Regions from separate parts of the Homo sapiens genome. Here region 1 is linked to region 2. Evidence: fine-mapped expression QTL. Tissue or cell type: whole blood. Region 2 holds a variant in brackets; the other region holds the start of a gene. All regions are shown on one strand. Distances are between the middles of the regions.

Region 1 (8,104 bases), 34 kb before region 2:
GGCAAAGGGAGAAGCTGAGCCACAGTGCGAGCCGGACGCACGGGCCACGTTGCGAGGGCATGACCTGGGGCGAGGCAGCCCTGGAGGAGGGGGCAGCTGAAGGTGTCTGCTGACCCCACACCCAACAGCTCGGGTAACAGGCCTTACTGTCAGAGCGATCTGGTTGCCACGTCTCTGTGGCCCTCAGAGAGACATCATGTTTTCTTTTTTCCCTGCACCTTTTTGTTTTGAAAAATGTTCAGCATACAAACAAGTTGAACGTAAAGTGAGCACGCAGATTCCTAGGTTCAGCAGGGGTGAGCAGCTGGCCACGTTTCATTTCTCTCCCTCTGTGTTTATATATGTGTATTTTTCTTTTTTCCTCCCCACTCAGCCCCCACCATTAGCTGCAGATACCGTGATACCCCCCTCCCAAATACTTCGGTATCCAACTCCTTAAGAACAAGAACCTCCTATATTACCAAAATACAATGACCACATCAGTTCAATGCTGTTATCTATTTTCCATCTCCAGTTTCCCGCGGTTGTCCCAATAATGCCCTTTACAGCCCTTTTGTTATTGTTGTTTTGTTTTGCTTTGTTAAGACGGGGGTCTCTGTCACACAGGCTGGAGTGTAGTGGCACGATCACAGCTCACTGCAGCCTTGAACTGCTGGGCTCAAGCGATTCTCTTCCCTCACCCTCCTGAGTAGCTGGGACTACAAGAGCACACCACCACACGCTATTTTTTTTTTGGTAGAGATGGGTGGGGGGGGGGGTCTCACTATGTTCCCCAAGCTGGTCTCGAACTCCTGGGCTCAAGCGATCCACCCACTGTGGCCTCCTACAGTGCTGGGACTACAGGTGTGAAGCTCTGCCCTACAGCCCTTTTTTAAACCCCAGGATCTAATCAGGGAGCCACACTGTGCATTCAGGCTATGCACTTTTTTTGGCAGGATAATATACTACATAGAGCATGTTTTATCTTGTTAGAAGGCTGTCAACCTGAAATAACCAAACAGGTCAGAATTTAGCTTAAAGAGAGTTTATTTAAGTGTATAAAGTTTGAGGACAGGCTGCCTGGGAAGCACAGATTTTAAAGAATGGAAATCAGTATTTTGAACTGTAGATGTTTGGGATCATTTATGTAGACAAATTTTAGGGAAGTTTAACAGAATTTTAACATCTTTTTATGCATAAAGTTATAATCTGACCAGCTGAGGTGGTCTTTTTTAGGTGGAAGGTATATTTAACATTTTACACTGAAGATGTAGGAGTCTGGTCTAAGTACGGGATAATAAGAGACAATCTATAATAAAGATCAGTAATTAAAAGGGGAGCAGGCCTGGTCTGTGGTCTCTCCTAGTCATTTATAAAACATGAATGATAAAGAAAAACAGCCTATAATCTAAAAGACAAAATTACAAACATGCTATGTGACCCAGTTTCTAGGACTTAACTTCCCTCTTGACATAATAAATTTATTTATTTTTATTTATTTATTTAAAGACAGGATCTTGCTCTGTTGCCCAAGTTGACCTAATAAATTTCAAGAGTCCTAAAATTTTCTTTTTTAAGACAACATATCACTGTGCTCCATGATTGATAGTGGGGCTCCGTGGTTTCTGCCAGAAGTCTCCATTTTTCCTTTTGTTATTAATGAGTAATTGGTGCAGTGATACTTTGAGACTGTAAATATGCTGTTCCCAAATGACCTTTCACCCAGTGAACTAGCATTTAATGAGGAATCTTGCCTGAATCCCTTATTTCTTGGGACAAAGTGTTAATTTTCTAATTTTATCATTCCCTCAACATTTATTAATAAATTATTTATTAGCAAGCATTCTTCTGTAGGGATTTCCTCTTTGATTTATTTTTTATCAGTATGCCCTAATGGATTTAGCTGACCGAGTTATGATCCTTACTGTATTGTCCTGTATTTAGCTAACGGGAGCCCCTTCAAATTGGCTTCTTTTTTCATATGACATGTATCTACCATCCTTTGAGTACTTACTTATTTTCTGGGACAACCAGATGTTCAAGGATCCTCCCCTTCTCTGCCCAGGCCTGGCATCAGCCATTGTTGGCAGGAGATAATTTGAGCAGATCGTGTGGATTTCAGAAGCATGAAAACTACTGTGAGGATTAAATAAGTTAGCATGTATAACATTCTGGTGCTTTTGTGGAGTTTCCAAATTGTCATGAACAAGCACTACTTTATAGACAGGAAAAAAAGTGATTCAAAATGTGAAAACGGGTATATGTACATAAGGTAAAAATAAAATCCTAAGCCCCCCATTGACCAAAGGGACCTTCTCCTGACCAAGGGGACACCAGAAAAACCTCAACACTGAATTCCCAGACATGATGGGATGGGAGGTCAGATGCGCCTGGTAATAGCCCCCTGTTTCAGAGTTTGGACACCACAACTGGCCGGCATTCATGTTAAAACAGAGATCGTAAGACTGACAGAACGGACTCTGTGGCAATAAGATACCAAATTATAAACAGGACCCAAAGCCATGCTAGGCGAGGGTAAGTCAGGCAACCCACACTTAGAGAATAAACTATATTCTAAGAGCCACAAGGCTTTCTGTTTCTCTATTAGCCAAACACACACTAGCCTTGGGATAGGGAATATTAAAACAATTGCAGCTCCACTAGGTGCCAACTAACTGACTCTGTTTCACCAGCCATAGCAGCTGTGATTGGACAAGAGACTGATTTCAGTGACTTTCTCCTAATAAGAGACCACCGACCAGCTGACCATGCCGACCAGCTGACCCGTTAATAGAGAGAGATGATGCACCTGCATGCCTTTGTGTCCTGAAAAGACGTTTTGCCATAAAGGCCCTAATTGTAAGATGTGTAAATGTTAAGTCTCCACCCCAAAGTGAACATGGGTCATATATTACATGCTTTGCTCAATAAGAGGGCATGTGTCAGGACCACCTTCATGAATATTCATAGCTCCTCCTGTTACCTGTTGAATATGTATGTTTAGCCAATCCCTTCAGCATAGCGCTCCTGCCCCAACCCCTCCTCCTTGGACGTGCCTGTCTCTGGCCTTGGCTGGAGACAGATTCCCAGCCTCAGACAGATGGCCGCCACCTTGCAGGCTACGACCGTTTACAAGAAATAAAGCCTTCTCTTTTTCCAAATTTGTGAATTGTGTGTTTTTAAACTAACATGAATGACAGAAGGAAGGATGGCCTCTTCAAGCAACGATGATGAGGCAGTTATTTATATGGGGGAAAAATGGATTCTACCGTGGGTGGACTAAAGAGGAAATGTGAAAAAATAAAAAGTGAGAAACCGCTGGTAGTGAATCGGTGCAAGCGCCCTGGAGAAGAGACTTGGCAATATTTAGTAAAGTCAAACAGCACGAACCCTACTACTCTGCAAAGCTGCTGCAGGAACTGGCGGAACGAGGTCACGAAGGAAACCTTGCCGGAAAGGAAATTGCAGCAGTGCCTGTGTGCGTGCGTCTGTTGGCAAAACGCTGCTAATAACGTCAATGCCCATCCGCTATTGAATAAACCTGCTTTACTGCCACTATGGAATACCAAACTGCAGAAAAATAATTAAAAGAACGTATCTCATATTACAGGGGAAAAAATCAAGTTGCAGAAGCACATTCAAGTGCAGTTCCTGTAGTTTCAGAAAAGGCAAACAGTGCGCTACCTGAGCTACTTACACACGTGGTACAGGAGTGAAAGGGGCAGGAGAGGGTTCCCAAGAATTCAGCGCCATCCGCCCAGGGTGGCGGGATTCCCAGCACGGAGAATCGATTGCTATCGTCTGCTGTCCCGCGGGCACGATGGAGCGCTCCTACCGTACTCTCCACTTTTGGTGTATTTGGAACGTTTCATGCCGTATTAAAATAAAACATGGCTAAGCTGGATGTGGGGTGGCGGTGTGGGATAAAATAGAGGGGTGCTGCAGCTGGGCGGTGAGCCCCCTGCACCTGTGCACCTGAACGGGTTTGCCCGCAAGGGCCGGGCCGGGGCCGGGGCCTGGGACGTGGGTGGAGCCGGGGCGGGGGCGGGGCCCTTCGCGGTGCCGTGAACGCTGAGGCCACCTCGCTGCGCAGGCGCGGTCGTGAGCTCCTCAGACGGGGCGGGGCGATCCGTAGGCAGGGCCTGACGCCGCAGTCCTCCTTGGCCGGAGCCTCAACGGATGGGCGGGGAGGGGGCGGGGCCGGGCAACCCGGAAGGTCCGGCGTCCCAGCCGCCTACCTCGCTGGGACCCTGGTCTTGCTGTCCCCCGCTGGCCTCCTGCCCAAGCGACTGCGGCCAGGATGGGCCGGAAGGTGACCGTGGCCACCTGCGCACTCAACCAGTGGGCCCTGGACTTCGAGGGCAATTTGCAAAGAATTTTAAAGAGTGAGTCTGGGGCGGCGGGGGCACCGGTTTGGGGTGGCGCACGGGCACCGTGGCTGGGCCCAGGCTTGCCCGTGGCGTGCTCACAGCCTTGCCCTGGGAAACTCTCGGCCCTGGGCATGGGATCAGGTGAGATAATGGGCAATGACCCCGCCAGTGGTACGTGCTCAGGTCCTCGTCGGGAAGTGAGTGTTTATAGTTCCCGGGGACGAGCGATATACAAGGCACGGTTAAGAAAAGTCTGGCGGCTTAGGCGGGAGGCCTGGGGATGGACCCGTGTTCTGATATCTCTGGGGTCCCGTGGTTGGGACTGAGCTGCCCATTCTCGGAGATATCTAAGTTGAACAGAATGGCTGCGCACTGGCGGGGATGGTGTGCAGAGGCCAGAGATTGATGGTCTCTGGTCCCCGTGGGCCTTCCTGGTGGGAGAAGGCGTCCCAGAAAGGGAAGTAGAAAAAGACGCCTGTCATCCCAGCATTTTGGGGGGGCCGGAGGGGGTGGAAGTCACCTGAGGTCAGGAGTTCAAGACCAGCCTGGCCATCATGGTGAAACACCGTCTCTACTAAAAATACAAAAATCAGCCGGGCGTGGTGGCCTCGAAGATAGGGTGTGGTTGTTGAAAGGTCACCATCTAATTTTCGTTCATATGGACGCACCGTGGAGGATGAAAAGTTAAACTATTACACCTGCACCTAAATGGGCAAGCCTGCAGGTGTAGTCAGGTTGCAGCTTGTCTTGCACTGGTCTGCTGACTGCAAGAGCCTTTGCCAGGAACAATAGAAACAGAATGTTTCAAGAGATGGCATCTAATCAGTATGTGCCCTGGATTATTATTATGATTATTATTATTTGACATGGACTGTCACTCTGTTGCCCTGGCTGGAGTGCAGTGGTGTCATCTTGGCTCACTGCAGTCTCTGCCTCCTGGGCTCAAGCGATTCTCCTGCCTCAGCCTCCTGAGTAGCTGGGATTACAGGCGTCTGCCACCATGCATGGCCAATTTCTGTATTTTTAGTAGAGACAAGGTTTCACCATGGTGGCCATGCTGGCCTCGAACTCCTGACCTCAAGTGATCCACCTGCCTTGGCCTCCCAAAGTGCTGGGATTCCAGGCATGAGCCACCGCAGCCAGTGGTTTTTTATTTTTATTTTTTAAATATCAACCTGCTTTCACCTCATTTGCTCAGAGCAAATCTAGTTGAACTGAAGAAGGCTTGGCCAAAACTAAGTTTCCACTCTGCCAGCCTCTCCTCCCTAGGTGCTTGTTGGAAGCTGCTGCCCAAGACCAGTAAGCCGATGGTGCCTGACAGTGGCACCACTGCTGGATCGTAATCCTCTAAGTCCTTTTTCCTCTAGATGGTGTTGGGCATTTCCTTGTTAATAAACTACCAGGGTCTGACTTCTTCCTCTTCCTCCGCCTCCTCCATGGTGCTAAGGGTCAGACCTGCAAGCCCTCCCTGTTTCTCATTTCCTGCAGATATAAGCAGGTATATGCAAGTATAAGCAGGTGCAGGCGTACTCGTGTATACAGGTGTATACAGGTGTATGCTGCCCTCTGCTGCCATGCTGTCAACAGGAAGCCTGACTGCATCCCGTCTGGGAAGGCACAGAGCATTTTTGTTTGTTGTTTGTTTTTTTTTTTATCCTACCTACTGCAGCAGGTTGTTTCATCTGTCTTTGAGTGTATAGGTGCTGAAATTGCTCCATTTTCTTTTTCTCTCTGTACTTACAGGTATTGAAATTGCCAAAAACAGAGGAGCAAGATACAGGCTTGGACCAGAGCTGGAAATATGGTGAGAACAGACACAGACACCCTGGGGTCGTCAGCTAGCGATACCAGCATCAGTTTTCCCCAGCTGAGAAGGCAAGGAAGGAGCAGGGACAGTCCTGAGAGCTGTGGACACGCCACACCCACTGTTGGGCCTGGTTAATGCCATTGAACACCTGAGCAAGGGCAGGCCCAGGGAGGCTGAATAAGTCTAGATTCCCATGTTGAGTAATTAAAAGAACTGACTTTTACCAGATGAAGGCCAGTTTCAAAGTTGGGCTGCTTCTGTGTTACCACTGCCCTTTTGCTGTGGTCTGAATGTTTGCGTCCCCACAAAATTCATATGTTGAAACCTAACCCCCAGATGATGGAATTAAGAGATGAGGCCTTTGGCAGGTGATTGGGTCATGAGGGCATGAGAGTGGAGCCTGCATGAATGGGATTAGTGCTCTTACAAGAGAGGCCCAAAGGAGCTTGTTGGCCCCTTCTACCATGTGAGGACACAGAGAAGGAGACAACCAGTCCTTACCAGATACCAAATCTGCCAGCACCTTGATCGTGGGCTTCCCAGCCTCCAGAACTGTGAGCAATACATTTCTGCTGTTTATTAATTACCCAGTCCAAGGTGTTTTGTTATAGCAGGCTGAAGGACCAAGACATATTCCCAGGTTTTCATTCCGTGATCTCAGAATCTTTCCACAAGCAAGCATAGGTTATCGTTTCTTATATGCCTTTTTGTAAAAATCAGGAAAACTGATTGCTTATTTCCCTTCTTGTCCCTTCAAAAACAAAAACAAAAATGAAAACAAAACAATGAGTAGCCACGTTGTAAGTCTCTTGTAAGCGATAGTCCTTTCTCATTTTGGATGTCAGCTGCCATCTGTGCTCTGCTAGTTTCCCGTTGGTCTTTAGGCCTCTGACCCGTTGTGGGATCTGGAAGTTCCTCTTCAGTCTTTGTCCCCTGCCTTAGTGTGTGTTCTTGCTTCTGGACTTAGAGTAAGCAGGAACTGTCTTCTCTTAGGAGGTTTTGTGTGAGTCCAGAGGCATCTTTCTCTAAGTCCTTCCAAGTTTCTTTCCTTCATTAGATTGATTTCTCTCCTTAGAATACCACCTTCAAATAGGGCTGTTTCTCCCATAATATCCAAGAATGTTTACTTTGTTCTTTAATTTGTCTTCATTTGATTGATTCTTTAAGAAATTCTTCACCTAAGTGCCAAGGGATCTAGGGTTCTGGGCTGTCTGATATCACAAAGCTTCGATCCTCTCCTGGCCCCGTGGCCGGATCTTCTCCTGGGCTGGACTCAAGGCCTGATCGTCTCGTGAGCCTGACCTCTCCTGGGCTGGTCCGGGGGCCTGATCCTCATGTCCTGTCTGCTGCTTGCCCTGGAGGAGCTGCAGTGGTGACAGCCCAGTCCCCCTGGCCTGATGTTGCCCAGATGCTTAGAGTTTACGTCTTCTTTTCTTTCTTCGTCCTAGTCTCTCTCTCCTATAAATGTTACATCCACCTCTCTCTTTCCTCCAAATATGGACCTGTTTCATTTTAAAAGTGGGAGGATGTCTAACTAAAGGCCCCCGGGATGGAATATTTGCATCCAGCAGGGACAGGGGCCCAGCTGAGCAGGTCTCCAAGTAGCTTACAACCTGCTGAGCAGGCTCCTGTGAAATATTCCAACAACTTACAGAGAGGAAACCGAGGCAGGAGAGGAGGGACATCACTTCACTGAGCACACCGCCTCTTGTTCTTACTGGTTAGAGGTCCAGCACCTGATACACAGGGAGGGCCCAGTGGCCCTAGAGCAGGCTGACTCATGGACCAGAGACCCTCTCACCTAGAAAAGTCAGCAGTTTCCTTTGAGCTGGTGCTGGAAGCTTTGGAAAGGGAAGGCTACCACCCAAATGGCCCCAGGACCAGCTCCTGCTGCTGACTCACCGAAGGGGTGAGAGGCCTCTGGTCGCTGGATGCCATGCAGCGGGAC
Region 2 (8,104 bases):
GGAGCCGCACAGGCACCTGGGGGTGTAGACCGGGGTGGAGCCGCATGGGCACCTGGGGGTGTAGACCGGGGTGGAACTATGTAAACATCCCACACACTCAGGTGACTTCCACCCATTCTGTCCTGGTGGTTTTCAGATGAGGAAGTGCTGGCTGATGTCCGCACCATCGTGAACCAGATCAGCTACACCCCCCAGGATCCCCGAGACCTCTGTGGACGCATACTGACCACCTGCTACATGGCCAGCAAGAACTCCTCCCAGGAGACGTGCACCCGGGCCAGAGAGTTGGCCCAGCAGATTGGAAGGTAGAGTTGGTCCCTGGTATTGGGCATGGCAGGTGGCTGACAGAGCTCAGAGTCACTGGAAGCTCCGCCTGTGAGTGCATTGGTGACTGGCTTCATTCATTCCGCATCGTGTCATCCACTATGTGGATAAACGTGTAAGTGCTCCATCCCTTTTTGTGGGTGAATAATATTCCACTGTACGGATAGACCAGTTTGTTTCTCCTGTCATCAGCAATTGCTTAAATGTGCACCTAGGAGCTTATCAGGGCTCCACTTTCTCTTGGTTTGAGCCAGATTTCAGGGAAGCTGTGTGTGAGTCCTCCCTATCTGACCCACCCCAGTCTCAGATGGTGCCTGCAATTTCTGCCCTTCTGTCCCCTCACTCCTGGCATTCCCAGTGCAGGCTGCAGGTCGTATGTGCTCACCAGGGTGTGCAGCAGGTCCTGGGAGTTGGCTGCAGGCTGGCTCCTACCCCTCCTCCTTTCTCTTCCCCTGCCCTCACTGCCTCTTCCACGGGCAGTTCTCTATGTGAGGACAGTGGAAGGAGGGCACCTTTCCGGAGAAGAAAGACTGGGTTCTATCTAGAATATTCCATCCATAATGGCTCCTAGGAGAAAATGAGCAGCTCCCCATCCTGTTTGTTGAGCTCAGCTAAAAGCTGTCCCCATGCCCTCCAGTGATTCTCCTCCTAGATATGTACTCAGAGGAATCAGAAACAGGGACCCGAACAGATACTTGTTCAGGAAAGTCCATAGCAGCACCATTCACAGAAGCCAAGAGGCAGGGACAACCCAAGGTCCATCTCAGATGAACGGAGGAAGAAACTGTGGTCCATTCACACGGTGGAATATTAGTCACCCACGAAGAGGAGTGGAGCATGATCACATGACACAGTGAGGAGAAACCTTGAAGACATGGTGCGGATGAAGGGAGTGGAGCCAGCCACACCAGGCCACATGGTGTTTGATTCCATTTCCATTCCATTTCCACGCAATGTCCAGAACAGGCCATGGCATAGAGAGAGAGGGTGTCTGTCACTCTCTGCATCTGTCACTGTCAGAGCTGTCAGAGCTGGAGGAGGAGGGAGTGGGGACAGACTGCCAGTGGGATGGGGTTCCCTTCTCTGGTGATGGGAAGTTCTGAGCTAGATGGTGGTGATGGCTGCGCAGCACTGTGGATTGCTAAACACCACAAATCATACGCTTTAAATGGGTTACAATGGTCAGTTTTAGGTCATCAGGGCTTCACCGCTCATGCGCACACACATGCACACACGTGCACATGCTGCCTTCAACGCCTATCCTTCTCCTTCCAGCCACCACATCAGTCTCAACATCGATCCAGCCGTGAAGGCCGTCATGGGCATCTTCAGCCTGGTGACGGGGAAGAGCCCTCTGTTTGCAGCTCATGGAGGAAGCAGCAGGGAAAACCTGGCGCTGCAAAATGTGCAGGTGCCCCCGCCTGGGCCGGCGTCCCCTGGGGGTGGGGGTGCAGGGAGCACTGGGACAATCACTACAGGATGTGCAGGTGCCCCCACCTGGGCCATCGTCTCCATGAAGCTCATGGCACCGGTTACCTAGGGACAGCCAGTGCTGGGGTCACAGCCTGTATGCCTCACTGAAGACGTCGGTCATGCAGCCTTGTTAACAAGGAGGGGGTCTGTGTGTGTGTTGGTGCATGAGCATGTGATGTGTAAGAGCAAGAGCGGGGGTGTAAGGATGTGCGTGCTCGAGTGTGTGCATGAGCCTGAGTGCAAGAGCAAGAGGGTGTGTCTGAGCCTGAGTGTGAGCCTGAGCGTGAGAGGTTACATGAGTGTATGAGAGTACAAGTGTGTGAATGTATGCACAAGTGTGGGTGTGCTTGTGAGTGCTTGTGCAAAAGCAAGTGTGAGTGTGGATGTGTGAGTGTGCACAAACGTGAGTGCACAGTTGTGTGCATGAGTGCGTCTGCATGAGTGCACGAGCATGCCTGTGAGCATGTGGGTGGGTGGGTGTGCATGAGTGTGAGAGTGCACATGACTGTGTGTGAGTGTGTGTCTCTTTAATCCTCAGGGAACAGCCCAGACGCTGTCTGCCTCCTGAGCTACTGCACTTGACTGACTGCTCCGTGATGGGCAGAGGAAAAGAGAGGCCGGGGGCTCCAGCTGCTGGGATCTGTCCTGTCTCTCTCTGTCCCCTTTCTGCTGTGCCTGGGTGGCCTCTCCCCTCCTGCCAGTGGTAAAGGGATGGAAATGCAGTTGCCAAGCTTTCTCCCAGGGACCCCACGGCTCAGTCCTGCCACCAGTGCTCCCTCTGCCCTCCCGGGCTCTGGGTGCTCCCATCTTTGAAGGCAAGGCACCACTGAGCTTGTGTGAGCCCTGTGGAGGTGGGACCACCCCGAGAGGAAGGCCTCGGGACACTGTGGGACTCTGAGACTCTGATGTTCCCCGAACGCTAGAGAGCTCCTAAGCTATTTTAATTTTCTTGTTTTCAAGAGTTTGTGGGTGTGCGTCTCCCCCGTGTTCCTTTGCAAGGGAACCCGTTATTTCCTCTGTTGTGTTTTCCAGGCTCGAATACGGATGGTCCTCGCCTATCTGTTTGCTCAGTTGAGCCTCTGGTCTCGGGGTGTCCACGGTGGGCTCCTCGTGCTGGGATCCGCCAACGTGGATGAGAGGTGAGTGTGGCCCAGTGGCACGTGGTGGTGGGCCCCTGAACCTCTCAGGTCTCTGAAGGTGATACGCTGTGAGATTCTATCATCCTGTGCCTTTCATGGCGGGTTTGGTGCCTGGAATGACATCATTCCTCTAGAATTTCACCCAACCCGAGTGGCAGAGCGGATCAGCATCACGTTCCTGCAGGTGGCTCTGGGCGCTCACCACTTTCATCAGCCTTGTGGTTCTTCATCTCTACTGCGCCTCAAATTCATCTTCCCACCGCCCTCTGCCATGGTCAGGCTCCCCTCTTTCTTCTAGGCTGTTCCACTGTGTCTTAAGTCATTCCTTTGCAGCTAGTTTTTACCTCCAAACCAGAGTTCATTTTTTATGTGGACTGAAAATACTCCCCTTCTCATATTGCTTCCTTGTTCAACAAAACTCAGAGCCTCCCTGTTGTTTTCTGGATAAAATTCAAGCTGCCCCTCAAGTCCAGCAGTGGAGGCTGCTAGAAATTCTTTTCCAGCCTTGGTTTCCCCACTTCCCTTAGGTGAGCCTCTATCCCTCTCAGCTCGTCTGTGCTGTTCTTAGTTGCTCCTTAGGAGCTGAGGGATTTCAAAAACTATTTGTGATTTATTCATTTGTTTGTCTATGCATCCATCTATCCATCCATCAGTTGGGCCATCCATCTATCCACCCATCCATCCATCTGTCCATTCATCTATCCATCTATGTATCCACCCATCCATATATCCACTCACCTGTCCGTTCATCCACCCATCTGTCTGTCCATCCATTCATCCATCCATCCACCCATCCACCCATCTGTCTGTCCATCCACCCACCCACTCACCCACTCATCCATCCA[T/G]TCATTCACCCATCTGTCTATGCATTCATCCATCCATTCATCTACCCACACATCCCTCCACCCACCTGTCCATCCATGCATTCATCCACCCACCCATCTATCCATTTATCCACCAATGTGTCTGTCCATCCACCCATCTGTCCATCTATCCACTCATCTATCCATGTATTCATTCACCATTTCATCTGTCCACCCAACCCATCCATCCACCCATCTCTCCCTTTGTCCATCCATCGACCCATCTGTCCACATTTCCTCCCTTCCATCCATCTATCCCTCCCTTTTTTCTATGGCGTGAGTGTCTTTTTTTTTTTTTTTTTTTTTTTTTTTGAGATGGAGTCTCGCTTTGTCACCCAGGCTGGAGTGCAGTGGCGCGATCTCGGCTCACTGCAAGTTCCGCCTCCCGGGTTCACGCCATTCTCCTGCCTCAGCCTCCCGAGTAGCTGGGACTACAGGCGCCCATCACCACGCCTGGCTAATTTTTTTGTATTTTTAGTAGAGACGGTGTTTCACCGTGTTAGCCAGGATGGTCTCCATCTCCTGACCTCGTGATCCGCCCACCTTGGCCTCCCAAAGAGTGTGAGTGTCTTAATCACTCTGCATCCTTGCCTGTCTGCAGATGTGTTCTCTTTTAAAACTGATTTTTTATTTTTAAGTCCTATTTTATTTTTCTAATTACAGAAATTTGAAATTAACACCTGATACTGTGTAAAAATTCTCATCCTCCTCATGCATATTTTGACCATTGCTTTTCTGGTGCCTCTGGTGCCTTTGTAAGGGACTGATTTTTCAGGAGGGGTGTGACGGCTGGTGTATATTCTCAGCTCTGGTGTAGTTGAGGAGATTGATGTTTGCTTTGGCTCTGCATTGCTTTTGTAGATGAGGAAGAATTTGATCTGTTATAAAATTGTGTTGTAAGAGTTCCCCCTCACAACTCTTGTCCATCATTTTCTAGTATTTAAAATGTTAACAAAGAAACAAGTATTTTTTTCCAGGGTGGGATTGGGTTCTGGGAGCTGGAAGGTCTCTAGATGCCATTTAGAAAATAAACAAACGGGCTGGGCACAGTGGCTCACGTCTGTAATCCCAGCACTTTGGGAGGCTGAGGCAGGCAGATCACAAGGTCAGGAGATCGAGACCATCCTGGCTAACACGGTGAAACCCTGTCTCTACTAAAAATACAAAAAATTAGCCGGGCGTGGTGGCAGGTGCCTGTAGTCCCAGCTACTTGGGAGGCTGAGGCAGGAGAATGGCATGAACCCAGGAGGCGGAGCTGGCAGTGAGCCGAGTTCGCGCCACTGCACTCCAGCCTGGGCGACAGAGCAAGACTCCGTCTCAAAAAAAAAAAAAAAAAAAAGAAAAGAAAAGAAAATAAGCAAACGTAAACGTAATCCCTCAGCTGCCCCTTTCTCACTGCGGGACAGAAGGCCCTGTGGCTGCAGACACTCCCCTCATGATGTAGTACTGAAGCCCTTCTCTCTGTTTCCCATGCTGCATCTCCCTCTGCCGCCTTCTTCTCACGGGTCACAGCCAGTCCTTCTCTTCCTCTGTGTTCTGGCAAGAATCTCAAATGTGTAGTGTTGATTTTTTTAAATTTCCCTGTAATTCTGTTGTTGAATTGCTTCTGATTCTAGTTCAGTCGCATCCCTGTCTGCTCATCAGGGGCCTGTTGGACACCTGTCCTCCCTCAGGCTTTCTTCCCGGTGGTGTGAATGAGTCAGAAACAATTCCTGTTCTCTGCAAGTGGGAGGAGACAGTGATAGCCCAGCAGATAACATGTGTATTGTAGGAAACGTCCGCCGAGAGAGCTCAAGGAGGGGAAGGGAGAGCTGGGAGTTTGTAAGCAGCTTGCCCAGGGAGGGCCCTACTGAGAAGTGGGTTTCATAAAGGCCTGCGGGAGGCGAGGGTGGGTGGAGAAGAGCCCGTGAAGCCCTGAGTCATGACTCCCCCAGGACTGAGAGCCCATCATTGTCTCCCTGAAAGGCCTGGTCTTGAGTGGGGACTGGAAGACCTGCAGAGCTGTTTTGGAAAGTGTGCGGCGTGTCGGGCAGAGGGAGGTGTGAGACGTCAGAGACAGCTGTTTCCAGAAATTTCACTTTGAAGGGGAGGGGAGGCGCAGGATAGGCGCTGCAGAGATCACTGGGAACAGGAAAAGGAGTTTGCTTTATTATTAGAGACAGGGTCTTGCTCTGTCACCCAGGCTGGAGTGCAGTGGCACCGTCACAGCTCACTGCAGCCTTGACCTCCTGGGCTCAAACAATCCTCCCACCTTAGCCTCCCAAGTAGATGGGACTGTAGGCATGCACCACCACGCCTAATTTTTTTTGTTTCCACTCTGTTGCCCAGACTGGTCTCCATTTGTTTATTTGCCTTAAGATACTGTCAAGAAAAGACCAGTAGAGAGGGAGTGGACTTGCTGGTGCAGGACAGTGGGGATGTTGCTGGTGAGGAGATGAGAGCAGGTGACCAGGCAGGAGGGTGGCTTTGCTGGGGGCCTGGCCAGCGCGCCCACAGCAGCAGGAGGGGTGGGTTCAGAGGCAGGCCCAGGAGAAGGTTCCAGAGAGAGCAGGAGGGGAGGGGAGAGTGAAGCCAGCCCTGCAGGGTTAAGTTGGGGTCAGCATGGGAATGCAGAGCTGAGAGGCTGTGTTGAAGTTAGGCTTCTAACAACATGATTTCAGCTGATGGAAGTGACCAGCCTGGGGGAAAGGTCCATGCAGAGTGCGAGAGGAGGGGACAGCTGCTGGAACTCGGTGGTCCTGTATTGAAATTTATGGCCACACTTGTTGCTGGCTTCAAAGTCTCACCAGTCCGCCAGTTCAGTCTTGATTTCACCAGAAAAAGTCTGCCTCAATTTTCCCCCTATAACCGTGCCTCCCCATCCCCATGGTCCCCACTTCCTGGCTGGAGTTTCCTTCCACCAAGATGAGGCAGCATCCTGGCCCCACGGGTCGCAGGTTGAGCTGAGCTCTGCACTGCGGGATTTCCCCAGACTGTGCTCTCTGAGTCAGCCCCGGCGGATTTCCCCAGTCCTTGGCAGTTACTGGGGATGGAAGAGAAAAAGTGCTAAGATGGAGACTGTCATCTCCCCTGGCCCATCTGGCCCGTATCCCAGCTCCTGCTGAAGGAGCTTTGGACGGGACAGGACAGGGAGCGATGGGGTGACTGGGGTAGCCCTCACTGAAGGCAGCACAGGGTCTCACCTGTCCCTCTGTTGGGACCCTGGGGGTCTTACACCCCCGACATTGCACCACAGTGAGGGTCAGGAAGGGTGAGAAGGCACGGAGGTGTGAGTTTGGGAGTGTCAAGAAATGCATCTGGTGGGATAGGCAGGGGCCAGCCTGGAAGGCCTTGCAAGGTCAAGGGCACCATTGAGGGAATTCAGACTGTGGAAGGGCTTGGCCTGGCCTGGTATGGAGGAGATGGGTGGTCAGCCAGGAGTCCCGTGGAGAACCTGGAGGCCTGCACCAGCGTTGGCAGCGGGGTGGGGTGGAGAAGGACGGCTGTAACCCAGGATCACAAAGTTTGTGCCTTCAACAACACACATTTATGGTCCCTCAGTTCTGTAGGACACAGGTCCAGTATGGGTCCCCTGGCTCAAGTGAAGGTGTGGACACAGTGGGTTCCTTCTGGAGACCCTGGAGAGAATCTGTTTCCCGCCATTTCCAGCCTCTGGAGTCCCGCCTTCTTTGGCTCACGACGCCTCCTCCGTCTTCACCACCAGCGGCCTCGCGTCTCTGCCTTTCCCCTGCAGTCAGGGCTCCCTCAACTCTCACTTTCACCCCCTTCTTTTAAGGACCCCTGTGATTGCATTTCAGGCCCACCCTGCAATCCAGCATCACTCCCACATCTCAAGTCCCCAGCTGAGTCCATCTGCAAAGTCCCTTTGGCCCTGAGAGGTGACAGAGTCACAGGTTCTGGGGATTAGGACGTGGGCACCTTAGTGAGAGATGGATTCTTCTGCCGACCACAGGCCTCAGAGTTGACAGGCAGGGGAGGGGCCCGCGGCCGCCCGGGCAGCAGAGTGTCCACGTGTGTCCAGTCCCTGCTCACTCCCGACACCCCAAGACCTCTGTCCCTCAGCTCTGTTCAGACGACTGCTCCCAGCTCCGTGCTGGTGACCCCCGAAATCTGCCTGCCATCCCCGGCGTCTCCTCTGGTGCACTCAAAGGCCCTCCTGGGTCCTCTGCAGCCTCTGCCACCTTTGCGGGTTGCTCTGGGACTTCTCCGGGATGCTTGAATATGCCACACTTCTGGCTTCAGGGCCCCTGGAAGAAGCGACTCCCTGGCTGGCCAGGGTTGATGGAGTCTGCGGCCCCTTGGGAA

The links. PIP is the estimated chance that this variant, and not a neighbour inherited with it, causes the effect.
Region 1: it holds the start of NADSYN1, and the variant in region 2 is fine-mapped to the expression of NADSYN1 in whole blood (TOPMed, PIP above 0.99). The same link has a PIP of 0.9 or more in aorta, blood mononuclear cells, tibial artery and visceral fat.

The regions. Positions count from the first base shown.
Region 1 is chr11:71,449,018-71,457,121 of GRCh38, forward strand. NADSYN1 (NAD synthetase 1) reads left to right here and starts at 4,186. Exons shown (of 21, transcript NM_018161.5): 1 at 4,186-4,364; 2 at 6,093-6,153. The coding sequence starts at 4,280. It overlaps DHCR7-DT (DHCR7 divergent transcript), which reads left to right. Exons shown (of 2, transcript NR_186309.1): 2 at 2,673-3,140. It also overlaps a transcript of DHCR7 not described here. RefSeq lists enhancers at 2,855-2,904, 3,025-3,104, 4,342-4,843, 4,844-5,343 and a silencer at 3,915-4,284.
Region 2 is chr11:71,482,713-71,490,816 of GRCh38, forward strand. NADSYN1 (NAD synthetase 1) reads left to right here. Exons shown (of 21, transcript NM_018161.5): 14 at 137-305; 15 at 1,600-1,735; 16 at 2,830-2,936. Among named protein-coding and RNA genes, the nearest start is that of MIR6754, 13 kb to the left of the region's middle. RefSeq lists enhancers at 2,442-2,942, 5,230-6,000. The variant T/G (reference allele first, on the strand shown) is at 3,782.